Linked DNA regions of Homo sapiens. The protein of the gene in region 1 purifies or fractionates together with the protein of each later gene. This does not show direct contact. Each region holds a gene or a part of one and is shown in the gene's direction. Other genes may lie near its edges. The genes, in order: PROZ, SDF2, ATP23, INTS6, MLF1, RICTOR and PIP4P2.

What was found.
Region 2: the proteins of PROZ (region 1) and SDF2 purify together in Homo sapiens (co-immunoprecipitation; one large-scale study listed by IntAct). This does not show direct contact.
Region 3: the proteins of PROZ (region 1) and ATP23 purify together in Homo sapiens (affinity purification with mass spectrometry; 2 studies listed by BioGRID and IntAct, with this or other methods). This does not show direct contact.
Region 4: the proteins of PROZ (region 1) and INTS6 purify together in Homo sapiens (co-immunoprecipitation; 3 studies listed by BioGRID and IntAct, with this or other methods). This does not show direct contact.
Region 5: the proteins of PROZ (region 1) and MLF1 purify together in Homo sapiens (affinity purification with mass spectrometry; 2 studies listed by BioGRID and IntAct, with this or other methods). This does not show direct contact.
Region 6: the proteins of PROZ (region 1) and RICTOR purify together in Homo sapiens (co-immunoprecipitation; 3 studies listed by BioGRID and IntAct, with this or other methods). This does not show direct contact.
Region 7: the proteins of PROZ (region 1) and PIP4P2 purify together in Homo sapiens (co-immunoprecipitation; one large-scale study listed by IntAct). This does not show direct contact.

What each region holds. Positions count from the first base shown.
Region 1 is NC_000013.11:113,168,093-113,173,335, forward strand, and holds the end of PROZ (vitamin K-dependent protein Z isoform 2 precursor), read left to right. Parts: intron 1-1,709; exon of another isoform or gene 1,710-1,996; intron 1,997-2,320; coding exon 2,321-2,438; intron 2,439-3,277; exon of another isoform or gene 3,278-3,501; coding exon 3,502-4,013; 3' UTR 4,014-4,294; downstream 4,295-5,243. UniProt on the Homo sapiens protein: Appears to assist hemostasis by binding thrombin and promoting its association with phospholipid vesicles. Inhibits activity of the coagulation protease factor Xa in the presence of SERPINA10, calcium and phospholipids.
Region 2 is NC_000017.11:28,655,089-28,659,592, reverse strand, and holds part of SDF2 (stromal cell-derived factor 2 precursor), read left to right. Parts: intron 1-4,109; coding exon 4,110-4,306; intron 4,307-4,504.
Region 3 is NC_000012.12:57,944,271-57,948,774, forward strand, and holds part of ATP23 (mitochondrial inner membrane protease ATP23 homolog), read left to right. Parts: intron 1-1,357; coding exon 1,358-1,403; intron 1,404-2,455; exon of another isoform or gene 2,456-2,490; coding exon of another isoform or gene 2,491-2,561; intron 2,562-2,724; coding exon 2,725-2,806; intron 2,807-4,504.
Region 4 is NC_000013.11:51,372,353-51,376,856, reverse strand, and holds part of INTS6 (integrator complex subunit 6), read left to right. Parts: intron 1-682; coding exon 683-809; intron 810-2,060; coding exon 2,061-2,203; intron 2,204-2,417; coding exon 2,418-2,649; intron 2,650-4,504. UniProt on the Homo sapiens protein: Component of the integrator complex, a multiprotein complex that terminates RNA polymerase II (Pol II) transcription in the promoter-proximal region of genes.
Region 5 is NC_000003.12:158,604,253-158,607,638, forward strand, and holds the end of MLF1 (myeloid leukemia factor 1), read left to right. Parts: intron 1-844; coding exon 845-950; 3' UTR 951-1,696; coding exon of another isoform or gene 1,697-1,718; 3' UTR 1,719-2,204; downstream 2,205-3,386. UniProt on the Homo sapiens protein: Involved in lineage commitment of primary hemopoietic progenitors by restricting erythroid formation and enhancing myeloid formation.
Region 6 is NC_000005.10:39,063,788-39,068,291, reverse strand, and holds part of RICTOR (rapamycin-insensitive companion of mTOR), read left to right. Parts: intron 1-4,504. UniProt on the Homo sapiens protein: Component of the mechanistic target of rapamycin complex 2 (mTORC2), which transduces signals from growth factors to pathways involved in proliferation, cytoskeletal organization, lipogenesis and anabolic output.
Region 7 is NC_000008.11:91,016,226-91,020,729, reverse strand, and holds part of PIP4P2 (type 2 phosphatidylinositol 4,5-bisphosphate 4-phosphatase), read left to right. Parts: intron 1-466; coding exon 467-573; intron 574-2,216; coding exon 2,217-2,340; intron 2,341-4,504. UniProt on the Homo sapiens protein: Catalyzes the hydrolysis of phosphatidylinositol-4,5-bisphosphate (PtdIns-4,5-P2) to phosphatidylinositol-4-phosphate (PtdIns-4-P).

The sequences.
Region 1 (5,243 bases):
CATAGGTCTTACATCTACAGATGTTATAAATGCCACTCTATACTTCCATTATTTTTGTTTAAACAGTATCCTGTAAAGAAGTTTAAAGAATAAGGAAAAAAACCTTACATATATAGTGGAATGCGGATAAATATTTAATGGGATGTCATAACCTTTTCCAGTGTTCCTTGCTGCTTTGTGTAAATCCAGGCCTCCCTCTGGTATCGTTTTCCTCCTGCCTAAAGGGCCCCTTTGATATCTGCTGTGCTGTGAGGCGTCTGGGGAAGAAGCCTTCTTGCGTTTGTCTGGAGGAGTCTTTGTTCATCTTCATCTATGAAAGGCATTGCGTCTGGCGCAGAGCCCCAGGCTGGCAGCAGTCCTCTCCTCTCTGCACTTGGGCCTGCCCCACTGCCTTCCTGTCTGCCTTGTGCCACAAGACGGCTCCCATCACCCTGCTGCTGTTCCTCACATGTCCTTACCTGTGGCACTTTTAAGATTTTAAATGCTTTTTAATTTTAACTTTCTAAGATTTCCTCTATCATGGATTTTGAATTTAATTATACTGTGTATTGTTTTCATGTTTCTTGCACATAGGGTTTGTTGAGATTCTTGTATTTGTGGGCTAATATCGCTTGTCAAATTTGAAAAATATTTGGTCATAATTTTCTTTTTTTTGAGACCGGGTCTCGCCCTATTGCCTGGGCTGGAGTGTAGTGGTGTGATCATGGCTCACTGCAGCCTCAACCTCCTGGGTTCAGGTGATCCTCCCACCTCAGCGTCTTGAGTAGCTGGGACCATAGGTGTGCACGACCACACACAGCTAATTTTTAAATTTCATGTAGAGATGGGGTCTTGCTATGTTGCTCAGGCTGGTCTCAAACTCCTGGGCTCAAGCAATCCTTCCACCTCAGCCTCCCAAAGTGCTGGGATTATAGGCGTGAGCCACCATGCCTGGCCCATTATTTTCAGATTTTTTTTCTCTCCTCCTTCTCCCTGCTCTGTTTTGGGACTCTAATTACATGTATCTTAAGCTGTTTGAAATCCCATAGCTCAGAGATGGTCTGTTCATTTTTCAAAAATCTCCGTTCTCTCCGTGTTTTACTTTTGATAGTTTCTGTTGTGATGCCTTCAAGGTCATCAATCTGTTCTTCTGCAATGTCTAATCTGCCATTCATCCTGGCCAGTGGATGTTTAACCTCATATATTGTAGCTGTCATCCAAAAATTTAATTTAGGTTTTTAAAAATACGTATTTTTGTCTCTACTTAACTTTTTGAACATTTGGACTACAGTTACAATCACTGTTTAATTGTCCTTGTCTACTAATATCTGTCAGTGCTGACTCAGTTTTGGGATATTTTTCTTCTCATTATGGGTCACATTTTCCTGTTTGTATGCCGTAATGGATTTCCAGACATGTGAATTTTATCCTGTTAGGTGCTGAATATTTTGTGCTCTATACATACACTTGGATATTGTCCTAGGACACAGTTAGGTTGGAAATACTTTCATCCTTTGGCACATTGCTCTTAAGATTTGTCAGTAGGACCAGGGCAGCGCTCAAGTCTAGAGCTAGTTATTCTGACTACTGAAGTGAAACCCTTCTATGCATCCTGCCCCGTGCCCCACTGAGTCAGGGATGTTTTAACTCAGCTGGTGGAAGCAATTGCTATTCCCAGCTTGTGTGAGTGTCTAGCACAGGTCCCTCTCACACTCTTGGGTGGTTCTTACCCGGCCATAATTAGTCTCCATGTACACGTGATCACCACTGCTCTGCTGAAAACTGCTAGGCATGTGGCCATCCTCCAGCATTCTCTACCAAGCTCTCTCCTCTGCCGGACTCTGTTCTGCAGGACTCTGTTCTGCAAACTCCAGCCACTGTGGCCTCCCTGGGCTCTCAGCTTTCTCTCTTCAATTTAGGGAGTCAGCAGGGCTCCAACTGAGATGCCCCGTCCTGCTCTGCACCATGGAAATTCTGGACAGTAGCTGAGACCGTTGTTTCTTGGGGATTACGATTCCTGAAAACCATCATTCCATAGATTTTGTCAATTTTTTGCTTCAGGTGGGAGGGTAAATCTGATCACTGTTACTTCACCTGGGCCGAAAGGGGAAGTGCCGGCCCCATTTAATCCCTAAGCAAACAAAAGCTTAGACTGTCAACAATTCGTTAACAATCCTGTACCATTTGAGTGCTGGGGCAAGAATCAAATACGGCTGTCTGCCTTTGGCGGGGGGTGGGGGTGGGGGTGGGGGGGTGGTCCATATCCCTATCCAGTAGACTTTACTGCCCCTAATCCTGCAAATTGTCACCAGCTATTTATTGTCTGTTTTGATTTTTAAAGGTAAAGTTAACAAATTCCGAAGGAAAAGACTTCTGTGGTGGTGTTATAATACGGGAAAATTTTGTACTGACAACAGCAAAATGTTCACTGTTACACAGGAATATTACTGTAAAAACATGTAAGTATTTTATCATGAGTTTTTATAAAACCACATTGGAAATACACTATCCTATGTAAGAATGAAATGACAAATTTAAAACTGGACTGTTTCTAATGCAACATAGAACTGAATTTACTGTCAATAAAACTGAGATACTTATCAACTCAGGAAGCATATGTAAAATACCAGCAGAAGCCTGGGCCCAGCGACAGGCAAGTGCTAACTCACACTCGGCAAGGGAGGAAATCACAGCCTACATAAGGATGACTTCATTTCCCACTGAAATTGAGCAGTTGTGGCATAAGAGATGGATAATTGGCTAAAAATCGGAAGAATGGGGCTCGAATCCCCCAGCAGTTGAGACCTCAGGCTGAGGCAGTGGCCTTCTCATCGGCTTATCTGTGCCTATTTCTTTCTTTTTTTTTTTTGAGACAGAGTCTCACTCAATCCCTCAGGCTGGAGTGCAGTGGCATGATCCAGGCTCACTGCAACCTCTGCCTCCTGGGTTCAAGCGATTCTCATGCCTCAGCCTCCCGAGTAGCTGGGACTACAGGCATGCACCACCATATCCCACTAATTTTTTGTATTTTTAGTAGAAATGGGGTTTTGCTATGTTGGAAAAGCTGGTCTTTACTCCTGGCCTTAAGTGATCGACCTGCCTCGGCCTCCCGAAGCGCTGGGATTACAGATGTGAGCCACTGTGCCTGGCCCTTAAATATTTTTCAATCAACAAAATAACGTGAAAACCACTTCTCAACAGCCAATGTTTGACTGGCCTGGAGACGTTCCACATCACTGCTTCCTGCTTTTTAATCATTTCACCACACCCCACTGCACTCCAAAACAGAAGAACTAACCTTGACTGTTTTTAAAGGCTGTGGCACTTGGTTGCAATCGTGCAATCTGTGAGTGGCCTTTCTGTCCGCAGAAAGGCACAGTGTCCACACCACGGGGCGGTGAGCCTGCGGGTCCTCCAGGGCCGGTCTCTCCCTCCTCACGTGGCTCCCTGAGAAGCTCGTTTGAGCATTATGTCCCCTTGAAAATCAGACTGTAAAGAACTGACGATTGTTCATGATTTCAGATTTTAACAGAACGAGCCAAGACCCGCTGATGATCAAGATAACGCACGTCCATGTGCACATGCGGTATGACGCGGACGCGGGGGAGAATGACCTGTCACTGCTGGAGCTGGAGTGGCCCATCCAGTGCCCAGGTGCGGGGCTCCCCGTGTGCACCCCTGAGAAAGACTTCGCTGAGCACCTCCTCATCCCACGCACCAGGGGCCTCCTCAGCGGCTGGGCACGCAATGGCACTGACCTGGGCAACTCGCTGACCACGCGGCCTGTCACACTTGTGGAGGGGGAGGAGTGCGGGCAGGTCCTGAATGTGACTGTCACCACCAGGACCTACTGTGAGAGAAGCAGCGTGGCGGCCATGCACTGGATGGATGGAAGTGTGGTCACCAGAGAACACAGAGGCTCCTGGTTTCTCACGGGGGTCCTGGGCTCGCAGCCAGTAGGAGGGCAGGCTCACATGGTCCTTGTCACCAAGGTCTCCAGGTACTCACTCTGGTTTAAACAGATCATGAACTAACTGAAACTCAGCTAGCCAGAATGAACAACACAACCGGAAGCGGGATTCCAAGCTGGCACTGCCACTGTGGAGGGCGCTGAAACTTCATCACACACTGAGAGGCCGTCACAGCCCCAGACCACCCGCTTGGCCCACGCAGCAGCAGAGCCGCCGTTTGCTGGGTTGTTTACCGAGCACTGTGACCTTTCTTTCCCTGGAACTCTTTATCTCAATAGAGACCTTAAAAGAAAACATGAGATACGTTAAATAATAAAATAAGATAATCTGTCAGTCATAAAGCAGCCTGGTTTCCAGAAATTCTTTCCTTCTCCAAGTCCAGTGTTCCCTGTGCTCAGGGAATAGCCACCCCAGCCTGCACACTGGTGAGTGTGTTCTGGTGCAGAAGCGACAACAATCTCCGGTTACAGCAGAAAGTGACCTCCTCTGTTGGTTTACCAATTGCCACTGTGACTGAGGACCATGGCTCAGTGCAGAAGCAGCCACTAGAAGCAGGTTGGCAATGGAGGAGAATGACCCTGTGGGTATCCCAGAGAGGCAGCATTAGAGGAAAGGGCCAGAGAGCACAAGAGAGGCTGAGGAGGCACGCCGGCGTCTCACGGGGTTGTGCACCCGCCCTTCTCTGGGAGGGTTCCCACGGAAGGTTCCGGGGCCCGAAGTCAGGGCTGAGCACTGAGACCCAGCTCTCTGCTCGTCCCACCAGGTGGCTCTTGGACAACTGTTCCACCTCTTCATGCCTCAGGGTCGCCCAGGGTAGAATCCCAGCACCTCACCAATGGGCTGATGGGCAGCTAGGGCAACGCCCAGCACTGTTGTGGCTGGAGTGTGTGTCCCTTCAAAACTCCAAAATTGGAACTTACCCCAAGATGATGATATGGGGAGGTGGGGCCCTTGGGAGGTGACTAGGCCATGAGGGCTCTGCCAGCCCCTTCCATCTCTTCTCCCATACGAGGACACTGCAGTGAGGTGCTACCCTGGAGACAGAGAGCCCTCAGCAGACACCAAATCTGCCGGCACCCAGATCTTGAACTTCCCAGCCCCCAGATCTGTGAGAAATGAGTTTCTGTTATCACCCAGTCCATGGTATTTTGTAGAACAGACCAGGACAGCACGTGCTGAATCACAGTAAACACCTGCTGTCATGAAGGCTGCAGCTGCAATGCAAGTACCAAAGACAGAGCTGCAGTCCAGCCCCCAGTGAAACGTCCTTGGAGACTGGAGCTCCTAGCAGGG
Region 2 (4,504 bases), on another chromosome or scaffold:
GAGGAGCGCCTCTGCCCGGCCGCGCCATCTGGGATGTGAGGAGTGCCTTTGCCCGGCTGCCACCCCATCTGGGAAGTGGGCTGCCCATTATCTGGGAGGTGAGGAGCACCTCTGCCCGGCCACCCCATCTGGGAAGTGGGGAGCACCTGGCCGCCCTGTCTGGGATGTGAGGAGCGCCTCTGCCCGGCCGCCACCCCATCTGGGAAGTGGGGAGCGCCTCTGCCCGGCTGCCCCGTCTGGGAAGTGGGGAGCGCCTCTGCCCGGCCGCCCTGTCTGGGAAGTGGGGAGCGCCTCTGCCCGGCTGCCCCGTCTGGGAAGTGGGGAGCGCCTCTGCCCAGCCGCCCCGTCTGGGAAGTGGGGAGCGCCTCTGCCTGGCCGCCACCCCGTCTGGGATGTGAGGAGCGCCTCTGCCCGGCCGCCACCCTGTCTGGGAAGTGAGGAGCGCCTCTGCCCGGCCGCCCATTGTCTGGGATGTGAGGAGCGCCTCTGCCCGGCCGCCCTTCGTCTGGGAGTTGAGGAGCACCTCTGCCTGGCTGTCCCATCTAGGAAGTGAGGAGCGCCTCTGCACGGCCGCCCCGTCTGGGAGGGGAGGAGCGCCTCTGTCCGGCCTCCCATCGTCTGGGATGTGAGGAGCGCCTCTGCCCGGCCACCCAGTCTGTTAAGTGAGGAGCTCCTCTGCCCGGCCACCCTGTCTGGGAAGTGAGGAGTGCCTCTGCCCGGCCGCCCCGTCTGGGAAGTGAGGAGCGCCTCTGCCTGGCCGCTGTGCAGTCTTCCAAGTGTGAAGTGACAGCCTTTCTGCAGGTGTACCCAACAGCACCGAAGAGACAGCGACCATCGAGAATGGGCCATGATGACGATGGCGGTTTTGTCGAAAAGAAAAGGGGGAAATGTGGGGAAAAGAAAGAGAGATCAGATTGTTACTGTGTCTGTGTAGAAAGAAGTAGACATAGGAGACTCCATTTTGTTCTGTACTAAGAAAAATTCTTCAGCTTTGGGATGCTGTTAATCTATAACCTTACCCCCAACCCCGTGCTCTCTGAAACGTGTGCTGTGTCAACTCAGGGTTAAATGGATTAAGGGTGGTGCAAGATGTGCTTTGTTAAACAGATACTTGAAGGCAGCATGCTCGTTAAGAGTCATCACCACTCCCTAATCTCAAGTACCCAGGGACACAAACACTGCGGAAGGCCGCAGGGACCTCTGCCTAGGAAAACCAGAGACCTTTGTTCACATGTTTATCTGCTGACCTTCTCTCCACTATTATCCTGTGACCCTGCCACATCCCCCTCTCCGAGAAACACCCAAGAATGAACAATAAATACTAAAAAAAAAAAAAAAAACTACAGGTAGAAACAGATGAAGGCCAGGCATAGAACTTTGGATAATCCCAAGGTATAAGGATTTGGAGGAAGAAGTGAACGGTTGAATAGAAAGCAGAAAATGTAGGAGACAAAATGTAGACCATGGTTTAGTGAAGCGTGGCTGTGAGGACCCAGAGAGCTGTAAGGCAGTAACCAGAAGTAGGAAGGGAGACTTGGTTTGCCTTTTCTGAAAAAAGATATAATAAAGTCATGAAAGGAGCTGATAGTTGGCTACATTTACCCGTGTAACTGGCAGTGACACAATTACGACTCATTGCAGCCTTGACCTCCTGGGCTCAAGCAATCCTCACATCTCAGCGTCCTGAGTAGCTGGGACTACAAGTGCACCCCACCACACCTGATTAATTTTTTGCATCTTTTGTAGAGATGGAGTTTTGTCAGTTGCTTAGGCTTGGTCTTGAATTCCTGGGCTCAAGCGATCTGCCCACCTTGACCTCCCAAAGTGCTGGGATTGACGGTGAGCCACTGTGCCCAGCTTCTTTTTTTTCTTTTAAATATAAAAATTTTTTTTTAGGCTGGGTGTGGTGGCTCACATCTGTAATCCTAGCACTTTGGGAGGCTGAGGCAGTTGGATTGCTTGAGCCCAGGAATTCGAGAGTAGCCTGGGCAACATGGCAAAAACCCATCTCTACAAAAAATAGAAAAATTAGCCAGGTGTGGTGGCAGGCGCCTGAAATCCCAGCTACTTGGGAGGCTGAGGTAGGAGGATCACCCGAGCCTGGGAGGTCAAGGCTGTGGCGAGCTGTGATCGTGCCACTGCACTCCAGCCTGAGTGACAAGAGGGATCCTGTATCAAAAAAAAAAAATACATATATATATATGTACGTTTAGAGACTGCATTTTGCTATGTTGCTGAGGCTAGTCTCGAACTCCTGGACTCAAGGGATCCTCCCCTCACCTTCCCAAAGCGCTTGGATTACAGGCATGAGCCACTGTGCCAGACCTCCAAGGATACATTTTTTGTTTTGTTTTTGTTTTTGTTTTGAGACAGAGTCTTGCCCTGCCACCTAGGCTGGAGTGCGGTGGTGTGATCTCGGCTCACTGCAACCTCCGCCTCCCGGATGCAAGCAATTCTTCTGCCTCAGCCTCCCAAGTAGCTGGGATTACAGGCACATGCGACCACGCCCAGCTAATTTTTATATTTTTAGTAGAGACGGGGTTTCACCATATTGGCCAGGCTGGTCTCGAACTCATGACTTTGTGTTCTGCCTGCCTCAGCCTCCCAAAGTGCTGGGATTACAGGCGTGAGCCACCGTGCCTTGCTTAAATAATACGTTTATAATAATTGACCACTTATGGGAGTTGGGAGCTGTAATGGCTGCTTAAAGTTGGCAACATAGTCTCATTTTAATTGTGAAATACAAAAATTTTTATCATAATAGTTAATGAACATGAATAATATTACAAACATGTTAAAATTATGTGATTAGACACATTAGGGGCTATCCAGGCTAGTGTGTATAGGTTACCACTGCCTGTGCCTCAAAAAACTCACATAGATTTGTGCCTTGGATATCCTTTGATGCAAATTCTTAGAATTTTCTGATATGACATACCCTTAAGTATACTTTATCATATAGTAACTAGTATTACGTGGACACAGTTTATTTATTTATTTTTTTTGAGACGGAGTCTGGCTCTGTCATCCAGGCTGGAGGGCAGTGGCGCGATCTTGGCTCATTGCAACCTCCACCTCCCGGGTTCAAGCGATTCTCCCACCTCAGCCTCCCAGATAGCTGGGATTACAGGCTGCCACCACCACACCCAGCTAATTTTTGTATTTTTAGTAAAGATGGGTTTTTGCCATGTTGCCCAGGCTGGTCTTGAATTCCTGGGCTCAAGCAATCCAACTGCCTCAGCCTCCCAAAAAGTGCTAGGATTACAGGTGTGAGCCACCACACCCAGCCTAAAAAATTTTTTTTTTATTTAAAAGAAGAAAAAGGCTGGGCACAGTGGCTCACCATCAATCCCAGCACTTTGGGAGGTCAAGTTTCACTCCCAGAGTGCTGGGATTACAAGCGTGAGCCACCACGCCCAGTATGATTTGTATTTTTTATAAATATTTTAATGTTGTAGAAGAAAAAATATTGCCAAGCATAGCATTTTTCTCCCCACCCCTTCTTACCTGTTTAATGACACGGCACAATATTGGCCATAGGCAAGAAGGGTGAGGCTGAGCTCACTTGCTGTTTTTTTTTTTGAGGAATGGGTACCAAATTTATTTGTTAATTTCTTGCATTTGAAGTACACAGTCACATCCTTGGCCTGAAATTCTTTGCTGTAGCCCTTCACTGTGACACAACTGCAACCAACCACTTTACAAAGTTTTCCTTGTCTATCAGTTTTACAAAGGCTTAGCCATGTCTCTGGTTTCTTAAGGTCATCAACCTTAATTGGGTTGATTTGGTGTTCGGCACAAAGGGCCACCCCTAGCTTGACATACATAGGCTCTTCACATTTGGATGCAAGCACGCAAAGATGGGCTTGGCCCTTGTCTAAGGCTTTGGCAGCTTTGCAGGTTCCACCTGCTAGGCCATCATGGCTGAGGGCGGTCTTCAGTCTCTTGTAGAGCAGTATTAATATCCATTACACCTCCAGCAGCGTGTCTTCCTTGGTCATGGTGGTGGGTTACAGGTGAAGGTGAATCTTGAGCGCACTCAAGCTTCTGTCTCTGAGCATGTTGTCCATGGCAGAGAAAGAGAGTTGCCTTTCTTTTCTTAACTGCAGGTAGTGGGCAGCAGTCAGTGACAGGTGTAACCTCTGTGGATGACAGCAACAGTTACTGGAGGATACGGGGGAAGAGTGCCACAGTGTGTGAGAGGGGAACCCCCATCAAGTGTGGCCAGCCCATCCGGCTGACACATGTCAACACTGGCCGAAACCTCCATAGTCACCACTTCACTTCACCTCTTTCTGGAAACCAGGTGAGGTGGCTTTCGATGGATTGTTGCTGCTCTGCATTACTCAGTGGGTGCTTGTTTGATCTCTTGGTTCTTAAATGTTTCTTTTCTAGGTGTAGATGTTCTCTTTTGTGCAGACCTGGGGAAATGGCTCTATTTTTGTGTGGGTTTTTGTTGTTTTTGAGACGCAGTCTCACTCTGTCACCCAGGCTGCAGTGCAGT
Region 3 (4,504 bases), on another chromosome or scaffold:
CATCTCACATTTCTTTTTCTCACCTATTTTTGCCTTCAACATTTTTTTTAAACCTTAGTTTCTTTTTCACTTTTTTTGGGTTACATCATATAATTGGCTGTGCATTTATATTCTCAGACAAGATGCCTATGTGAAAAGTTAATATCAGAGGCATTTGGGCTCCTTGTACTTTCCTGTAGTAGTCACGGGCCCATAGAGTCTTAGATGTGGAAGGGCCCTCAGGAATCGTCTAGGCCTCCCCGTCCCCTTACAGGGAAACCTCTGTGCTATTGCTGGCCAGATACTCTACAGACCTCTCCTGGAATACAGTTACCTGTTCCTTGAGGCTCTTTCAATCTACTGTCTATTGTTTCACCAGCTTTAATTGTTGGAGAAAAATCCTTTCTCATACTGAGCTGAAATCTGCCACATGTAACTTCCATACTTTGGTCCTTGTTCTGCCCTTTGAAGAAATATTAACTGAATCTAGTCCCACATGGCACCCCTTCAATACTTGAAAGTAGTGTGGTCCTAGTTAAGTCTTCTGTCTCCTTTCCAACCCCCCAAATCCTTTCTTGCTTCTTACTGGAAATAGTCTGTAGTACCCTAGTCACCATCCCCTGTGGAAGAGCTTCAGTGGCAGGTCCAATTTAGAAGGTGGTAGTACTCAGCATGGGACATGGTATTGCCGGTATGATCTGATCAGGACAGAACAGTGTGGCTACTGGCTTCCTCAAATCTAGGTACTGTGCTGTTGTTCACTTCTAAGAATGTGGCCCTAGATTCCCTCAGTCTTTTGGTATATACCGTAATACAACGTGTTTGATCATTTAACTAAAAATGAACTTTAAAAGCATAGTTGATATTGTCTAAGATGCTTAGTAGTACCATCTTGGTATTTGTATTAGTGTTTTATTTCAGTACAAACTTGCTTTGATGTTGATTTAAGCTTGGCCTCTCATGTCAATTTTTACCAATTTTAAGATAACATTACTTTTTTTTTGAGACAGAGTCACTCTATCGTCCAGGCTGGAGTGCAGTGGTGTGATCTCAGCTCACTGTAATGTCTGTCTCCTGGGTTCAAGTGATTCTCATGCCTCAGCTTCCCAAGTAGCTGGGACTACAGGCGTGTGCCACCATGCCCAGCTAATTTTTGTATTTTTAGTAGAGACGGGGTTTGCCATGTTGGTCAGGCTGGGCTTGAACTCCTGGCCTCAAATGATCCACCCGCCTCAACCTCCTAAAGTGCTGGGATTACAGGCATGAGCCACTGCATCTGGCCTGTGAGTTACTTTTTGATAATATCTTACACTGCTATTTGGGTAGTTTAATTGGTGCTACTTTTCCAATTACTTAATTAAATCAATATCTTTTTTAGATCCATATGTCAAACTTCTGCTTGATGCTATGAAACACTCAGGTTGGTAAGTAACTCTTTTTGAAGTGCTGCTCTGAGGTCTGGCTGCTGAAAACAAAAACCAAGTTCTCTTCTTAAGAGAACTGCTTAAGATTTCTCTGAGGTCACAAAGTCTTTTCCATAGGGTAAATAGAGGTAATTGGCTGCATTGTCTCCGGGCTGGCCTTGTTCTCTTTGGACATTTTCTGCCCTAACTCATGTTTTTTTTTTTTTTTGGGGATAGAGTCTCGCTCTTGTTGTCCAGGTGGGAGTGCGTTGGTGCTGTCTCGGCTCAGTGCAACCTCCGTCTCCCAGGTTCAAGCAATTCTTCTCCCTCAGTCTCCCAAGTAGCTGGGTTTACAGGCGCACGCCACCATGCCCGGCTAATTTTTGTATTTTTAGTAGAAATGGGGTCTTAGCATGTTGACCAGACTGGTCTCGAACTCCTGTCCTCAAGTGATCCACCCACCTCGGCCTCCCAAAGTGCTGGGATTACAGGTGTGAGCCACTGCGCCAGCCCAGCTCATTTTCTAGTTCTTACCATTCACCTTGGGTGATTAATAAAGACAGTACTCAAAATTTTCTTGTAAGTAATTACCAAGCCTGGCCTTTCTGCTACACCAGCCTGAGCACTGTTTTTAATGGAAAAGAAATCTCAGCTTGTTATGTAGGAACCTTGCAGATGTTGTATAACTTTGAGGGGTTTAAAGGAAGTGACTTCTGACATCCACTTCTTAACATTCTGGCCCAAGGGCAGGAACTCCAGCATACTTGCAATATGGCCATAATCAGTTGAACAAATTTTTTTTTTTTTTTTTTTTTTTTGAGACGTAGTTTTGCTCTTTTTTTTTGCCCAGGCTGGAATGCAGTGGCACGATCTCGGCTCACCGCAACCTCCGCCTCCCGGGTTCAAGAGATTCTCCTGCCTCAGCCTCCTGAGTAGCTGGGATTATAGGCGCCCACCACCACCCGGCTAATTTTGTATTTTTAGTAGAGATGGGGGGTTCTCCATGTTGGTCAGGCTGGTCTTGAACTCCCGACCTCAGGTGATCCACCTGCCTCGGCCTCCCAAAGTGCTGGGATTACAGGCGTGAGCCACCGCGCCTGGGGGACAAATGTTTTATGGAATCATATCTATAGAATTTGAACTAGAATGGATTTTGTGTACAACCTCCTTATTTTACAGGTGAGATAACAGTCCTGAAGATGTTGTTTCTTTCCCAAGATTTCCTATGTGTTAGTAGTAGAGGGGATTTACTATATGGTGGAGGGTCTCCTGAGCCCTGGCCCAGGGCTGTTTGCCACATACACACTGTTTCTGGACATTGTCTCCTTTTCTTGCCTTTTAGTGCTGTTAACAAAGATAGACACTTTTCTTGCGAAGACTGTAATGGAAATGTCAGTGGAGGTTTTGATGCTTCAACATCTCAGGTAGGCATTATTGCCAAATTGTTTCCTTCCCTTTAATCCTCTCTCTTTATATTTTTTGAGCATCTTCCACATGCTCGGCATTCTGTTTGGTAGACTTTATGTAGGACTAAAAAAGTGAATTAGTTATCCTTACTCTAAGGAGTTTACTCTTAAAATCTCTTAAGGAGTTTACAGCCTTACAGGAAAGATAAGACATGAACACAGATAATTATAAAATGAGGCAAGCTAAACCATTTTAGGTGGGCTTGGTTACCACAATGGAACAGTGATGTGATCGATTGAAAGATGCCAACAGATTCGACTAGAGGATATAAAGCCTCCTTAGGGGCAGAGCAGGGACAGAGCAGGGGCAGCATGAGCAAAAGTGCATGCTACGAAACTGCATGGCATGTGTAGGGAATGGCATATTGTCTAGTTTATCTGGAGGGCAGGAACATGTGGGGAATGAGGGAAAATAGGATTGGAAGGAAATGTAAGCCCTATGGTGGGAGGTTTTGAATGCTAAATTAAAGGGTTTTTACCTTTACGTGGTGAGAATTGATACTGCCTGTGAAAATTTTTTATTAGGGGAGTTTTCTAATCTGTACAATTTGGGCAACGATTGTATCTATTTTATGGAATGATTATGAGAATTAAATGAGATATCTCTTATAGAGTTGCTTATCTTAGTGCCTGGCCCATAGTAAGCATTCAATAAATTTTATTATTAGTTTTAAGTCATCAGAGAGTTTCGACAGAGTCTTGGAGGTGGTAGATAATGTCATGTGATCAGGGTAAATGATGGTGTTATAAGTAACTGTTTCCCACTTGAATGTATAATTCATACTTAACTACACTTAACTGTTTCCTGCTGGATAATTTTGTATGTATTTAGGTTATTTATAGCATTTTTACAGTAATCATGTGAAGTGGCAATATAGAACAAGGATGAGAAGTCTAGATTTTGGAGTCAGACTTGAGTTCAAATCCTAGTTTCCTTGCTTATTATCTGTGGGGCTTGGGCAAGTTATTTTTCTTCTTCTCAGTTTCCTCATTTGTAAACTGGTAATCACAATACCTATAGCTCTCAAAATGGCTCTGGATAAGTTCACTCCCTTCTCGGTCCCCCCAGGGTTAAACAGAGTGCACATCTTGAACTTTCATCCTAATTCTCAGCAGTGTTGAACACAGTTGGGCACCCTCTCCTTTTATTTTATTATTATTTTTTAAATTATTATTATTTTTGAGACAGAGTCTTACTCTGTCACCCAGGCTGGAATGCAGTGGTGCAATATGGGCTCACTGCAACCTCTGCCTCCTGGGTTCAAGTGATTCTCCTGCCTCAGCCTCCTGAGTAGCTGGGATTGCAGGCATGTGCCACCATGCCCAGCTAATTTTTGTATTTTTAGTAGAGTCAGGGTTTCACCATATTGGCCAGGCTGGTCTTGAACCCCTGACCTCAGGTGATCCACCCATCTTGGCCTCCCAAACTGCTAGGATTACAGGCGTGAGCCACTGTGCCTGGCCTATTTTTTTAAATGAAAATTTTTATTATGAAGTATCTCATTCATACAGAAGAGTAAAACATCTATATGTACACTTTCAGTAATAATAAAGTGCACACCTATGTAACCACCACCCAGACTAGAGAAAAAGAACATTACTAGGACTTCAGAAGCCTTCGTGGTCCTCTTGAATCAGGTCCTTTTCCCTTCCTTA
Region 4 (4,504 bases), about 62 Mb from region 1:
GAATAGATAAAGAAGATGTGGTGTGTCCATATAATAGACTACTACTCTGGAATAAAAAGGAACAAACTACTGATACATGAATAATGTCAATGAATCTCAAAAACATCATGCTAATTGAAAGAAGCCAAGTACAAAAGATTAGACGTTGCAAAATTCCATTTATAAAATGGAGCATAGAAAGAAAGCAAGTCACGTGGTTGCCTGGGGATAGGAATAGTGATTGACTGCAAGTGGGTACAACAAACTTGGGGATGGTGGAAATGGATTATGATGATGGTTTCACAACTATAAATTTACTAACATTCATCAAACTATATACTTAAAATAGGTGATTTTATGGTATATAAATTACACATCAAAGCTGTTTTTTAAAAAACTTCAGTTTTTAAAATTTGGAGATTGATTTTTACTTAAATGAGTTTACTTCTTTTATCCAGAATATATAATAAAATCTTTAGAGTTAGATGGTGAATTGAGATTGTTTGGTTGAGCTCACTACCAAATTTTCATCTTTTGGCCCTGAACCGGTACATTAAGATTATATCATATGTCTTTATTTTATTTTTTTTAAGCTAACCAGTTTATATATCTTATTTCCAAACCTATGCTGCAGGCTAGAGATTTTAGTCTCTTGTAATTCTATGTTTGACAATAAATTTTGTCCTCGAATGTTGTTTAATAGGATTTGAAGCCACAGACATTTAGAAATGCTTATGACATACCAAGACGAAATCTTTTGGATCACTTAACAAGAATGAGATCTAATCTTTTGAAGAGCACTCGCAGATTTCTGAAAGGACAGGACGAAGGTTAGAACATAGTTTCAATACTGGTATTTTTAATTTTTTTTCTTTATAGTCTGAAAAAGCATAGCATGGTGATGTAAATTTCAAAGAATTATTACAGTACTATAACATTCTTATTGTAAGTTCAAACAAATGAAGTAAAAGGTGAATCATCCCTGATTCTGTACCTTTCTTCCTACCATCACTGTTGCCCCAAATTCTCTTCCCTAGAGGTAACAACCTTTCTTAACAGTTTAGTTTCCTTTTATAGCTTTTCTCATGCATTCATGCGCGCACGCGCGCGCACACACACACACACACACACACACACACACACCCACTTATCAAACTGTATACTTAAAATAAGTGATTTTTCTTATCTCAATCATTTTCTTGAGATAATACCAGTATCTGATGGTTTAACTCTGGATGGCCAGTTTCATGACATTTTCTGATAATTCCTTCTTCACCTTTATCCATGGCACCTACTATAAATCAAGTCAGATGAGACTTTAAACGTTTGCCACCTCTGATTTAAGAGTTCTAACAATAATTTTATATAAAAGAGTTAGCTATGCGACTTTTTTTTTTTTTTACCATACTGTACTTCCATTTTCTACAAATTCTACTATAATTAAATTCTGTTTATTTGGAATAGCGCAGAAGAGAAGAGATACATCTTTCACGGTAAGATCACACATACTTTTTTTTTTTTTTTTTGAGTCAGAGCCTTGCTCTGTCGCCCAGGCTGGAGTGCAGTGGTGTGATCTCGGCTCACTGCAACCTCCGCATCCTGGGTTCAAGCGATTCTCCTCCTTAGCCTCCCTAGTAGCTGGGATTACAGGCACGTGCCACCATGCCCTGCTAATTTTTGTATTTTTAATAGAGATGGGATTTTGCCATGTTGGCCAGGCTGGTCTCATTCCTTACCTCAAGTGATCCGGATGTCTGCCTCAGCCTCCCGAAGTGCTGGGATTACAGGCATGAGCCACTGCGCCTGGCCACACATACTTTCTGTATGTGTGGAATTAATGGCAATGTATGTATGTGTGAAATTAATGGCAATTTTTGTTTTGTTTAGATGATGAGATCAGTATTTTAAATTTTATTTTAAAATATTTTGTCGCAGTGGTTATAATTGCACCAAACAAATTTAGAATATGTTGGTAAAGAAGACTGTCTAGAATAACACTAGGTAGCATTCATATATAAGGAAACATTATTTGAGAACTAATTGGAGGTTAACTTTTTTTGCTGTTGTATTCTTTTTGAAAGATCAAGTGCACAGTGTTCCTATAGCACAAATGGGGAACTACCAGGAATACCTCAAGCAAGTACCTTCTCCACTAAGAGAACTTGATCCTGATCAGCCACGAAGGTTGCATACATTTGGCAACCCCTTTAAGCTGGATAAGAAGGTAATTTTGAAATGTTCTATTATGTAATTTGTTTATGGTAGGCACTGTCAGTTTTATAGTTCTTAATTTAACTGAAGTAAGCTGAAGCTATTTTCCTGGTAGAGTATCTAATAAATATGAACAGAATATAGTTACCTTCATTGGAATTGACACTGGTTGTGCCATTTAAACATTGTTTGTAAATTCAAGAAAGTTGTATTCTTTTTTGCTAAAGGGTATGATGATAGATGAAGCAGATGAATTTGTGGCTGGACCTCAAAATAAACATAAACGACCCGGAGAACCAAATATGCAAGGGATCCCTAAAAGACGTCGGTGTATGTCTCCACTACTAAGAGGCAGACAGCAGAATCCTGTTGTAAACAATCATATTGGGGGAAAAGGACCACCTGCACCTACAACTCAAGCACAGCCAGATCTTATTAAACCTCTTCCTCTTCATAAAAGTAAGAATTGTTTTTTTCTTAAACATTATTTGCTGCCTTTTGGTTCCTTTTCAAGGAAGATATTTTTGTTATAGATTATAGAAGGAAATTGATTAGTAGTACAATGAGTGAATGAATGTATAGAAAATTTGTTTAAATGAGCATGTAATCATTTTTGTATGTCTTTTTAATGAACATTTGAACATTTCTTATTTATGATGCTTTATTAGCTATTATGTTCTAACATACATTTGCAAATCTTTCAAAATAATACTTTCGAAAGGAGCATTATCACTATCCACAGAAAGATGGTTTTCAATTTCAGTTGAAGTCAACTAATTATTAAATATGTATGCTATTTTGGATAATGCTGTGCTTTGAGGTATACCACTGAAGACAGGAGTGATCTCTGCCCTCATTTATAATCAGCAAGGAAGGTCAGTCATTGAACAGATATTGGAAGTATGTTGAATGTTACGAAAAAGATGTCAAGTATATTCTGGAAGCATTTGGCAAGAGGATTTAAGTCAATGAAGTCAAGGCACTTAACTGAAGAAGTTAATGCTTAAGCCAAAAGCTGTGCCGTTTGCTTATGCTGGAGCAATAGTATGTGCAGAGGCATAAAGAGAAAGACATTAAGGGAATTTAAAAAATTCCAGTATAGCAAGGGTGTTGGGAATGAGGTAAGGTGAGAACTGAAAGATAGAAGCCAGATTATGGAAGGTCTTGGAAGCTATTTTCAACTTTATTCTAAGGACAGTGAGAATCCACTGAAAGGCTTAAAATGATGGTGACCTAATCTGATTAGCATTTTATGAAGACCAGGTTGACTGTAATGTGTGTGGACTATTATCAGAGAGGAGCAAGAATGAATGTAGGGAAACCCTAATGAATTAATGGACTTATCAATTATATATAGTGGTCATACTTACAGCATGTTAACTGAAGGGAAACAAAATATTATATGACTCCTGATGGAAGTATCCAATACTGCCTTTGAAGTTGTCTTACCCAAAAAAAAAAAAACCAAACACCAAAATTGAACATCAATGTAATCAAACCAATTTATAGGAAATACAGGGGACAGAGAAACATGTGGGATACCGTTAGTAAAATCCAGATTGTAGAAAACTCTACAGGACAAAGAATCTGTTGGGTTTTTTTCCTGGAAAAAAAATATTTTTTCCAGAAAAATAAAAGGGGTACGGAAGGATTTTACAGATTCAAATGTAGTTTAAGAGATATATAAGCCAGTTGCAATGTATAGGCCTTAACTGTACTCAGAATCAAACAAAATCAAACTTTTCCACAAACAGAAAACATGTTGGAGAGTATGGACACTGACTGTATATTTGATGTTATTAAATAATTGTGCATGCACAGGAATCAGTTGGGAAACCCGGGGAACAGATGCTGCTGACCTGACAGTGGGGTTTCAAGAAGAATATGTATTTGAGAAATACCTGGACATACCACTGAAGGACTTGGTTACTGGTCAGATGTTGGGACCAGAGCAGGGGAGGAGTCAGACGTATGTCTTGAGAGACACTGGGTGGGTGGAAGAAGAAATGATAAATGAGTTTAGTTTAGAAGTGCATATTAGGTCATCAAGTGGAGATCCTAAGTTAGAAGATGAATATTGAGTTTGGGCTCAGGAGAAGAGGATTGGGCTAGAGGGGTAGTATGAGAGGCAGGTTACTGCCTATTGCACTGAATAAAATCTCACCAAGGCAAAAAGAAGAAAAAACGCTCAGAACAGAACCTTGAAAGTGCCAAAGTTAAGAGGAGAAAGCAGAAAAGGAGATTGAGAAGGAAGAATTTTAGAGCTAGGAGAAAATAGGGGAGAATTTAATGTCATGGAAGCTAAAGGGCAAGA
Region 5 (3,386 bases), on another chromosome or scaffold:
AAGTTTGAATAGGAAATCCAGGTCGCACTTAGAGAAGGCATGCTCTTTATGGATGACCTATAAATTTCTGGCCCTAACAGTGGCATTTTCTCTTAACCGGCACTGTCCAATGGCATTTTCTGAAATGACTTCGGTAATGACAAAAATGCTATATATCTATTCTGTCCAGTGTAGTAATCACTAGCCACATGTGGCTGTTGATTCACATTTGAAGCATTGCTGGTACAACTGAAGAACTGAATTATTTTATTTTAATTCAAATATAAATGTGGTTAGTGACTACCATACTGTTAACATTAAACAGTGTTTAAACTATAAACAGTTAAATCTAACAGGAAAACAGCTGTTGCTGTCTTAAATTCACTGAAATAGTCTGCCTTATTTTCTGGTTTTTTTTGTTTTTTATTTTTTGTTTTAGGGCAGGGGGTACAGAGTCTGGCTCTGTCGCCAGGCTGGAGTGCAGTGGCGCGATCTCAACTCACTGCAACCTCCACCTCCCAGGTTCAGGCAATCCTCCTGCTTCAGCCTCCTGAGTAGCTGGGACTACAGGCGCGCATCACCACGCCCAGCTAATCTTTGTATTTTTAGTAGAGATGGGGTTTCATCATGTTGGCCAGGATGGTCTCGATCTCTTAACTTGTGATCTGCCTGCCTCAGCCTCCCAAAGTGCCGGGATTACAGGCATGAGCCACCGCACCTGGCCAGCCTTGTTTTTCAAAGCCATTAAGGAATTTTTAAGATAAAACTTTTCTTATATTACAGTGGTTTTTAACATGTTTGTATTGATTTATAAACCATTGGCCATTTTTTAAATGATATTAATATTCACATGTATATTTCTCAGGGAGAAACCTCAACAAAGTCCAGCCATTGAACATGGAAGGAGATCAAATGTTTTGGGGGACAAACTCCACATCAAAGGCTCATCTGTGAAAAGCAACAAAAAATAAATAGCCATGCATTTGATTTGTTTAGTTTTGATTGTTTTAACAGTTAGTAATGGTGCTGGGTAATAAGCATAAGACCAATCTCTTGCTGTTAAATCAGTTCTGTCCTTGGCAACTTTCTTCTGATATCTGAATGTTCATGAAGGTCCTAGCTTTATATTGTCCCTCTTTTAGGAATAAAATTTTGATTTTCAACAATGTGAGTAAATTGAGTCTATTTAATGTAAAACTCTTTAAAACATACTAATTTTTTAAAGCTTATATGCTTATTTCGCTTCCCCAGTTGTTTTTGTGTTGGCTAAATATTCTTTTATATTTATCAAGATTGATTGCAGAGCAGTTCTATCACTTATAATTAGTTATAAGAAATTATAATGTTAAAAAAGTCTCAGTTTTTACTAACACTGTACTAGGGTGATATTAATAAAGGTTTAAATAATTTATCTCTAATTTTATAATGTGTTGTAAAGCCAACTAGCTTAAAACTTTAAAAATAATAAAGCAAAACTACACTAGTACTCTTTTATGAGAAAATAGTTACTATTTTGATAAAGGGCAAGGATAATCAAATAGTTCATTTTCAGAGAAAAATATTTTAAATTGCTAATGTACATGATTGTTTTGGTTATAATTTATTTATAGAATGTATCTTTTCTATATTACATTCTTAATATTCACCAGATATTATATTGACCATTCTCTTTAACTTCTTAATGTGGCATATTTCTACTCTCCTTTCCCACAAACAGCTTCATCTGTCTCCAAGGTTAACATTCTGAAGCTGGAGAGTCCTTGGAGAAACTCTGCTCAGCTTTTTTGTGACATTTAGAAAAATGCATTTGGTATTCTCCAAACCAGAATGATACATTGTCTCAAAATCTGTTAGACAGCTGATGGGTGTTTTTGAGCAACGTCTTAATAATTCAGTTGTTTCTGTTTTAATTATACCATTAAAAATCAGCTTTAGCTTTTTAATTCTAGAATTTAAGCATCAGTCTGTTCTTATAAAAGTTAGGTTTGAAGTTTATAAGAATATAAAATCTTAACTCACATTTGTTGTTTAATATTTCTGTCAAGGAAAAAAGCCCCCAAAAATTGCTATCACTCTATAATCCTAAGTATTTTTCTTTTCAATTTTGTAAGTAAAATTATATGACTATGTTCATACTTCTCTAATTTTTTATATAATATTTTTGTTAATTTTACTAGTTTGTGTTTTATGCCTTTAGTCATTAAAATAAAATGCAAATGTGTTAATTCATTGTTGAAATTGAGCATGTATTAGTTAAAAATTTCCTTTTAGGCATACTTTAGTATACTCCTAACATACCATAACACATTGGGAAATTGTCATAAGGCACACATTTTAAATAACATCTTGATATAAATTAACCTGATAGAGCAAAGTCTTAATAAAGTACATACTTGATTTTCCTTTTGCCTAAATCATTACACTGATGATAACTTGAATCATTGTAGTCAAATCTAAAAACACCCTTTAATAAATAATTGTGTTTAACAGTATAATTCCTGTACATCAGATTGCAGTTAGAGATTGTGGTGAGGCAGAATTTGAGATGGTAGTACCGAGAAAAGTTCTGTTTCTTTCTTAAAAGTCAACTCTATCTTTGCACCATAAAAACATAACTATCGATATCTATACCCCAGAATAATATTTGTTTGCAACAACTTCTTATGATGGGTGTTTAATACTGTTAGTCTGTAAATTGAAACTATTTAAAACTATATACATGCCGGGCGCAGTGGCTCATGCCTGTAATCCCAGCACTTTGGGAGGCTGCGGCAAGTGGATTGCTTGAGGTCACTTCAAGACCAGCCTGACCAACATGGCAAAACCCTGTCTCTACTAAATATACAAAAATTCAGCGGGTGTGGTGGCGGGCACCTATAATCCCAGCTACTCAGGAGGCTGAGGCAGGAGAATTGCTGGAACCTGGGAGGCGGAGGTTGCAGTGAGCCGAGGTCGCATCTCTGCACTCCAGCCTGGGCAACAGAGCAGGAGTCCATCTCAAAAAAAAAAAAAAAAAAAAAAAAACCTATATACACATACTAGGTAGGATGGTTTATTTTTAAGATTAATATTTTATTTCCACTCCTTTTATGAGCCAATGAATTATTTTATGTGAGTTCATGAGGTTTTTTAATAAAATAAATAGAAATTAAAAGCTTGTTTTTCATCTGTATATTCATTATTGTTAATTTCATGAGAATGACATTTGTTTTTATTCTTGGAAGTCTTCAACAGGAAGAACTATATTTTTTCTTTTCACTGTGCTCTGTTACAGGGTGTTTTAAAGTGATGTACCTTGCAGTGAGCGGAGATCGCGCCATTGCACTCCAGCCCATCTCAAAAAAAAAAAACAGAGTCTGAAAAGTCAATGTGTGTAGATCTATGAAATTACTTTCCACGTAATTTGC
Region 6 (4,504 bases), on another chromosome or scaffold:
ATCTTTCAGTCAAAGAAGAATGTTTGCTATTCCTTGAACATGGCATGTAGTTTAATATTCGCTTGACCTTGCGTAGGTATTTCCTTTGCCTTGAATTGCATTTCCAGCACAGTTTATCTATAGAAGTCCTAATTCTTTAAGGTTGAGGTCACATGCCATTTCTGGAGATCTTTCCTTATCCCAGTGGGAATTTATTGCTTCCTTCTCTGCTTTTTTACGTCTTTATTTATTATTTTCTAAATTGCAGTTACCATTGTCTTACTTTAGTTCTTTGTCCAGTTTCTTCCCCCTTCACTAGATCTTTAGCTTCTTGAGGGCAGGAGGCCTGTTTTACCCATTTTTAACATCCGCTTCCCCCAGCATCCATCAGATAATCACTGAGGCATTAATTGACTGGAAGAAGGGAGTGAGAGACATGGGAAAAAGAATAGTACAGTATTAAGGAGATTAGAAGGAAAAGAGTACTTTAAGATTACTGTCCTAAGGGACAATGAAATTGATGGTGCCATAAAATGGAGAAGTCATTTTGGGAAGGATGATAATGAGTTCAGCTTTGCACCTTGAATTTCACGTGATTATATAAATGTGTAAAAGGTGGCAGCAAATACTGGAATGGAGGTTTTAGTTGCCCTGAATTTCTAGTCTGATTGTTCTGTGTGTAAGATGTTGAGAAAAGGGATATAAATGGAAAAAGAGCTGAAGATTTGAATGTATGAAAATAGATAAGATGATGAGGGTGTATATCATAGGGTAGGAATCAATAAGAAGAAAGGAGTCAATAGAAGAGAAGAGAGAAAATTGTGATCTCTTAAGCTAAAACAGTTTGGATATTTGTCCCCACCCAAATCTCATGTTGAATTGTAATCCCCAATGCTGGAGGTGGGGCTTGGTGGGAGGTGTTTGGGCCATGGGAATGGATCCCTGATGGCTTGGTGTTGTTTTTGCAATAGTGAGTTCTGGCAAGATCTGGTTGTTTAAAAGTGTGCACCTACCCTCTTACTCTTTCTCACTCCTACTTTGCCATGTGAGATGCCTACTCCTGCTTCACCTTCCATCTTGAGCAGAAACACCCTGAGGCCTCCCGAGAAGCAGATGCTGGCACCATGCTTCCTGTACAGCCTACAGAACCAATAGCCAATTAAACCTCTTTTAAATTACCCAGGCTCAGATGCTTCTTTATAGCAGTGCAAGAACAGCCTATTACAGAAAATTGGTAAGTGGGCGTGGAGCATTGCTCTAAAGATACCTGAAAATATGGAAGCAGCTTTGAAACTGGGTAACAGGCAGAGGTTGGAAGAGTTTGGAGGACTCAGAAGACAGGAAAATGAGGGAAAGTTTGGAACTTCTTAGAGACTGGTTGAATGGTTGTGACCAAAATGCTGGTAGTGATACGGACAATGAAGTCCATGATGATGAGGTCTCAGGTGGAAATGAAGAACTTAGTAGGAACTGGAGCAAAGGTCACCCTCATTATGCTTTAGCAAAGCACTTGGTTGCATTCTGTTCATTCTGTAGGGACCTGTGGAAGTTTGAACTTGAGAGTGATGACCTCTGGTATCTGGCGGAAGAAATGTCTAAGCAGCAAAGTGTTCAAGATGTGTCCTGGATGCTGCTAACAGCCCATGCTAAGATGTAGGAGCAAAGAAATGACTTAAAGTTGGAATTTGTTTTTAAACAGGAAGCACTGCATAAAGGTTTGGGAAATTTGCAGCCTAGCCATGTGGCAAAGAAAGAAAAAGCTTTTTCAGGGGAGGAATTCAAGCAGGCTATAGAGCAACCACGTGCTAGAGATATTTGCATAATTAAACACATGCCAAAGTGCTGATATCCGTGAAGTTGGAGAAAAGGCCTTCAAGGCATTTTAGAAACCTTCACAGCAGCCCCTCTCATCATAGGCCCAGAGGCCTAGGAAGAAAGAATGGTTTTGTGGGCCTGGGCTAGCCGGGCCTTGCTGCCTTGCACAGCCTCAAGACACTGCTCCCTGCATCCCAGCCACTCAGGCTTCCAGCCTTGTTCAAAGGGGCCCAGGTACAGTTCGGGCTGCTGCTTCAAAGGGTGCAAGCCATAAGACTTGATGGCTTACATGTATTATTAAGCCTGCAGGTGCCCAGAGTGCAAGAACTGAGGCTTGGGAGCCTCTGCCTAGATTTCAGAGGATGTATGAGAAAGCCTGGGTGTCTAGGCAGAAGCCTGCTGCAGGGGTGGAGCCCTCATTGAGGATCTCTATTAGGGTGGGGCCAAGGGGAAATGTGGGGTTGGAGCCCCCCAGAGTCCCCAGTGGGGCACTGCCTAGTGGAGCTGTGAGAAGGGGCCTACCATCCTCCAGACCACAGAATGGTAGATCCACTGGCAGTTTGCATCCTATACCTGGAGAAGCCACAGGCATTCAACTAAAACCTGTGAGAGCATTCCTGGGGGCTAAACCCTGCAAAGCCACAGGGCAGAGTTGCCCAAAGCCTTGGGAGCCCACCCTTTGCAGCAGTGTGCCTTGAATGTGGAACATAGAGTCAAAGGAGATTATTTTGGAGCTTTAAGATTTAATGACTGCCCTGCTGGGTTTTGAACTTGCATGGGGCCTGTAGCCCCTTTCTTTTGGTTGATTTCTCCTTTTTGAAATGGCAATGTTTATCCAATGCCTATATCCTCATTGTATCTTGGGAGTAAATAACTTATTTGTGACTTTACAGCCTCATAAGTGGAAGGGACTTGCCTTGTTTCAGATGAGACTTTGGACTTCAGAGTTAATGCTGGAATGAGTTAAGACTTTGGGAGACTGTTGGGAAGGCATGAGTTTATTTTGCAGTGTGAGAAGGACATGAGATTTGGGAGGGGCCGTGGGCAGAATGATACAGTTTGGATATTTGTCCCCACCCGAATCTCATGTTGAATTGTAATCTCCAATGCTGGAGATGGGGCATGGTGGGAGGTGTTTGGGTCATGGGAGTGGATCCCTCATGGCTTGGTGCTGTCTTCGTGATAGTAGGTTTTCACAACATCTGGTTATTTAAAAGCCTGTGGCTCCTTCCCCCCAGCTCCCTCTTGCTCCCGCTCTGCCATGTGAGATGCCTGCACACGCTTCGTCTTTGCTATGAGTAAAAGCTTCCTGAAGCCATCCCAGAAGCAAGTGCTGGTGCCCTGCTTCCTGTATAGGCTGCAGAAATGATAGCCAATTAAACCTCTTTTCTTATAAATTACCCAGTCTTAGGTGTTTCTTTGTAACAATGCAAGAATGGCCTGATACATAAGCCAGGAGAAGAGTTTTGAATTGAAGGGGCTGCTAGACTGTTGCATTGAAGTTGAAGTCCAGAGAACGAGGTTCTGCTTTAATCTGAGGAAGATATGGCATGCTATTTAACCTCTCTGGCTTCAATTTCCTCACCTCTAAAATGCATACTACTTTATACTTGCAGCACTTTAGCCTCCTACCTTTGTAATTCTCACATATCACTACAGACCTGGAATATTGAAAAGGTTAAAAAGAAAGCATTTGTAGCCTTGTTAAATCACTGTGAGTAGTAGTCCCACAAACAATAATGAATACATGTAGGAGTGGTGGTATTTCATAGCACTTTAAATTTAAATTACAGTCAACTCTCAATTTCCTTTTAAGTGATCCACCTGCAGTGACTTGCTGCCTCCTCCCGCTCCCAGGTCTCAGGCTACCAAGAATAAGACTGCGAAAAGCACAGTGGGGTGAGCGAATGATTTGCTTGCCTGTGTATCTGTGCCTCTGTCACCAAGCTATTAAATACAGTCCATTCTCAATTACCTGCCTTAAAAAGATGAATAATGGTAGAAGAATGCTAAATATATAATCTAAATACTTTATATTGGTGAGAAAATATTTTATGTTCTTTTCTCTCCCACAATAGATTGATGTATATTTTCTTTTACATTTTATTTGAATTATTAGCACAGATTTTTGTTTCCTAAGCAAATACTGTTAGTGGAAGAACATAAACAGGTTAAAATATTTGTTAATCTGTATGAATAATTGAAGTTGACTGTTAATGCTTTTTGGGTCATCTACAGATACTGTTATTTGTGTTTTTTTGTTACAGTGGCCAGGTTAAAGTTGAATGGCTCCTTAAAAATTATATCCATACAACAAATGTAGTTATAAAATTACAGACATAAAAGTAAATTGAAAATAATTGTGTAAAACTAGTTAATACGTATAACATTCATATACCCAAAGTAATAGGGTTGAAAGAGAACCTAAATATAAGTATATTCTTCGTATTCCTCTTTTAGAGGCTTCCAGCCAGATTGCGTAAACTGAGCAATGTACCTGGAATGATGACATTTATATAAAATATAAAATTGAGGATATTCTAATGCTTTAAACATATCCTGTTAAAGATGTCAGTAAGAAATACAGAAAACGTTTTTTTAACCTTAATTACCTGGATTTTCAAGAATCTGCGTCCTTCAATTACTTTTCCTTTTTTTTTTTAACCCCATTGTGTTAATTTGGATTTGTAATGGTTTTATTAATGTCAAC
Region 7 (4,504 bases), on another chromosome or scaffold:
ATTTAGGAATGTTTAAAATATTGAATAACACCTTTCCTTTTTTAAAAATTGAGCTTTGGGGAGCAACTAAATTTTCAGCAGTATTTTTATAGCTTCAAGTAATAAACTGGTAAAGCATACACTGGTTTAGATGAAATATATTTCTTTCATAGTTAGGCTTTATATATTACATTTTGATCTCTCAAAATCTGCAATTAAATATTAATTTTATCTTTGATGTTTTATTTTTTTCTCTTTAGAAAAGACTAAAAAAAGTCAGCCAGTGATTATTGTGTCTTGAAGGACCACAAAACATGAATACTTGACTTCATATGTTTTATAGAAAAATCATAAAATAAAACCTTAAGTTACAAAAGCAATATATTTCATTAGTTTTAATGGAATCCTTTCCTTTTTAAACACAAACAAACTTTGACAATCTGTACTTTGGTTAATTGCTGTGTTTGCATTTTCTTCCCTTATCCAGCCAATCAAAAACCCCCCAACAGGCAAGAAATATGTTAGATGCCCTTGTAATTGTCTTCTCATTTGTAAGGACACATCTCGGCGAATAGGATGCCCAAGACCCAACTGGTAAGAGATAAAGATTAATTCATTGATTCATTCATTTGTTCATTCAACAAGTATTTACTAAAGGTTCTTCAGTGCCAGGCTTTGTTCTAGAAAGAGTTTTTGTTTTCAAAGTCATTCCAGAATCTAGATTATTTTTTTGTTAAAGGAATGATAAGCTTAGTTTGAACTTAGTCATAGATATTTGTAGGATATAATATTCTTAAATGAGCAATGAATGTTTTCTTTGTGTTATGTAAGTACTTAATGCACTGTAATAAATCAATGACACATTGAACGTATTTAAAAATAATGAGGTCAGGCCAGTGGTTCATGCCTGTATTCCTAGCAATTTGGGAGGCTGAGGTGGGAGGATTGCCTGAAGCTGGTAGTTTGAGACCAAACTGAGCAACATAGTGAGACCCCATCTCTACAAAAAATTAGCCAGGTGTGACAGCATGCACCTATATTCCCAGTTACTTGGGAGACTGAGGCAGGAGTATCATTTGGGCCTAGGGATTAAAGCCTTCAATGAGCTATGACTGTGCCTCTGCACTCCAGCCTGGGCAACAGAGTGAGACCCCATCTGTTAGTCTCTCTCTTTTTTTTTTTTTTTGAGACAGAGTCTCAACGGGAAGAGTCTCAAAAGAGTTGGCTCACTGTGACCTCTACCTTCTGCCCTGAAAGCCTTCCCACTATAGCCTCCTCCTGAGTAGCTGGGACTACAAGCACACACCACCACTCCCAGGTAATATATTTTTTTTTTTTTTTTTTTTTTTTTTTTTGTAGAGACAGGGTTTCACCATATTGCCCGGGCTGTCTTGAACTCCTGGGTTCAAGTGATCCCAAAGTGCTGGGATTACAGGCATGAGCCACCATGCCTGGCCCATCTCTTAAAAAAAAAAAAGTAATCACTTAGTTTACTTTTGATATAATTAATCTTCACCTGCAAGTGTTTTAGTTATTTTTGTGTATCTCACTGTATATTATACTAATCTCTGCTGAATGTATATGTGCAATAAATTCTGGAATTATTCGCTCATGCCCAGTACCATTATGGATGTCCCCAGATACAAGTATATAAAGGCCTTACTTGTGTTTTTTTTCTGTGATCTCTCTAGCTTTTTGACCATTACATGAATCATGTACAGCCCTATCCAATGATAGACTAGAGAATAGAAATGAAAGCAGGATCCTGTTTGCTTTCTTTTCATCTCTGATTAAATACGCATCAAGGAATATCACACTGCTCAGAGAAATTTGGTTGTAACCCAGCCCTTCGGTGCCTTCATGGCACAGAGATTTTTGTTGGTATAGAATATTTTTAACTTAGTCTTCTACCAAACTCAAGTTGGCTTCCTAGATAAGGAAGGGTAACAACTGTTTTCTGATTTGAACTTACAAAAACTTGGAAATGACAGTTAAATGGTTGCCATTGATTAGGACCAATGCTATAATATATTGTTTCTATCCCAAGTACAGACTCATATTTTGCTTTTGAAAAACTGACTGTTGCTACTCTTTGTAGTTTTGCCTCCAGCTTGACATTTAATTCACTTAATTTATGAAACAAGTATAGCACATTTCATATTTTTGGCCATATGTTGCAGGTTTTGCTCTCAGTCCATTTGTGGGATAGTGAAGTTGTTTCCTTTCTCTTTTCACAGTAGACGGATAATTAACCTTGGCCCAGTAATGCTTATTTCTGAAGAACAACCAGCTCAGCCTGCATTGCCAATCCAACCAGAAGGTACAAGGGTCGTGTGTGGGCACTGTGGAAACACATTCCTGGTAAGTCACTGGACATTTGTCATTAATCTGTAAATATAGGTCATGATCTTACAGATTAGAGCACTGCTCATAGTCTTATAGTTTTGTCCAAATGCAAATTAATCAAAATATTAAAATAGAGACTTATTTAGGCAGACAATCAGAAGTGCAACTAGGATATAGAGCATCTTCTGTGAACTAGATAAAAGGTACGTCCTCTGATAAGTCCAGTTGCAAAAAGGATCCTCTCTATGTAGGCCAATGAGAAATCGTGCCCAGGCTTAGTTCCATGAGTATCTTGGCTTGGGGAGCAGCTGAGTCTTAGCCCTGCTCTCACCTGCTCAGCAGAGGTCAAAGTGCACAATCTCATGCAGTAGATTTGCTTCATGGCTTCTAGATTGAGGAAAAATTTGAATAATAATTTATCAAAAATTTTCTGACTTTTATAAATTATTCTTGGAGCAAAGGGAATTAACACTGTTACCCATAATTAGATAAAACCATTAGATAAAGAATAAGAAAGTATAAGTAATTTGATATGAGCAAAAGTTATAAAAGTTTTTGTTTTACTACTTCTAACTTAAACTTAGTTTGATTTTTTTTAAAGTTAAATTCATAATTAACTTACCCTGTCAGGAAGGATAAGGACAGGTTTTCTTTTATTGTTCAGCCCATATAGGAGACAAACATTTTCTTTAGAACTTGAATATGAAAAATATTTATCAGAGTATACACATGGGAGTCTAAACAAAACCTGCTGTCACTAAGACATGAATGAGCTTAAGAAAATATAAGTGGTTTGCTTTTTTTTATTTGTAATTTTACTTTTATTAAAGAACTTTATGTATATAGTTCTAAATGTCAAATGGGACTGCAATCTTCTCATCTAGCTGACCCCTAGTTACTGTTCCCAAAATGCTTTCAACTCTTTCAGCTACTTTATTGATAGTCACTTCTATGTGTTTATTTTTTATAATTTTTAAATTTTTATTTATTTATTCATTTATTTTTTGAGATGAAGTCTCACTCCGTCGCCCAGGCTGGAGTACAGTGGCGTGATCTCAGCTCACTGCAACCCCTGCCTCCCGGGTTCAAGCAATTCTCCTGCCACAGCCTCCCAAGTAGCTGGGATTATAGGTGCACACCACCACACCTGGCTAATTTTTGTATTTTTAGTACAGATGGGGTTACATAATGTTGGCCAGACTTCTATGTGTTTAAATTGCTTATCCTTTTTCTATTTGATTAAGCAATTTTAGACATTACCCACTAAATAGTAAACTGCAAAATGAGAACTTAGCACTTATACTGCCCTCCCACTCATATTCCTTTCCTTGCTTTCATACTCCCAGTCAAATTGCAACATTTTGTTTAATTAATACTTAGTGTTTACAATTTTTATGATTAGGTAAATTTTGTTCACAGCTGAACCAAGCAATGTGGTACATTTTTCTTGTGCATGCATTTTAACATTTTCTTGGACTTACAAATAATTGCCCCCTCCTTTGGATTTAATTTTCTATGTGTAAATCATTCATTCTTCTCATATTCTTGTGTAGAACTATAAAATACCTATTACTATAATTAATTGCATCAAGGAATCTCTTATTTAGGCTTCCTGCTACATAGTTGTCATCCTTCCCTTCACCATCATCATGAAAATTCCTTTTACCTCTTTCCTGTGTTGGATCCCATGCCATCCTCAGAGTTCTTAGTTTATTCCTTCATTTTGGTGGAGCACATCTACTCTTTGCTTTCTGAGAAAAGATGCAGGGAAATATTATATTTGAGCTCTTTTTCTCTTAAGTGGTTTTTAATCTGATCTTACATTCACTTTATAATTTGTCTAGATGTGCAATTCTAGGTTGCCAGTTGTCACCTTTCAGAAATTTAAAGTCTTTGTTCCATTGTTGATGAGAAGATCAACAGCTATTGTGATACCTGATCCTTTTGATATGACATATTTTTTCTTCTTTTTCTTTTTCCTCTTTCATTTTCTTCAGTGTTCTGAAATTTCATGAGTCTATGTCTTCGTGAGGGTCTTTTTGAACTCATCATTTGGATATTCAGTGGGCCCTGTTATTGTCCATTCCATTTTTTTGGTTTTTAATTTTGTTTTTTCATATTATTTAGTGGGAAACTTCATTATATCTCCTCATCTTAATTTAAAATTTTAATTTCAGAT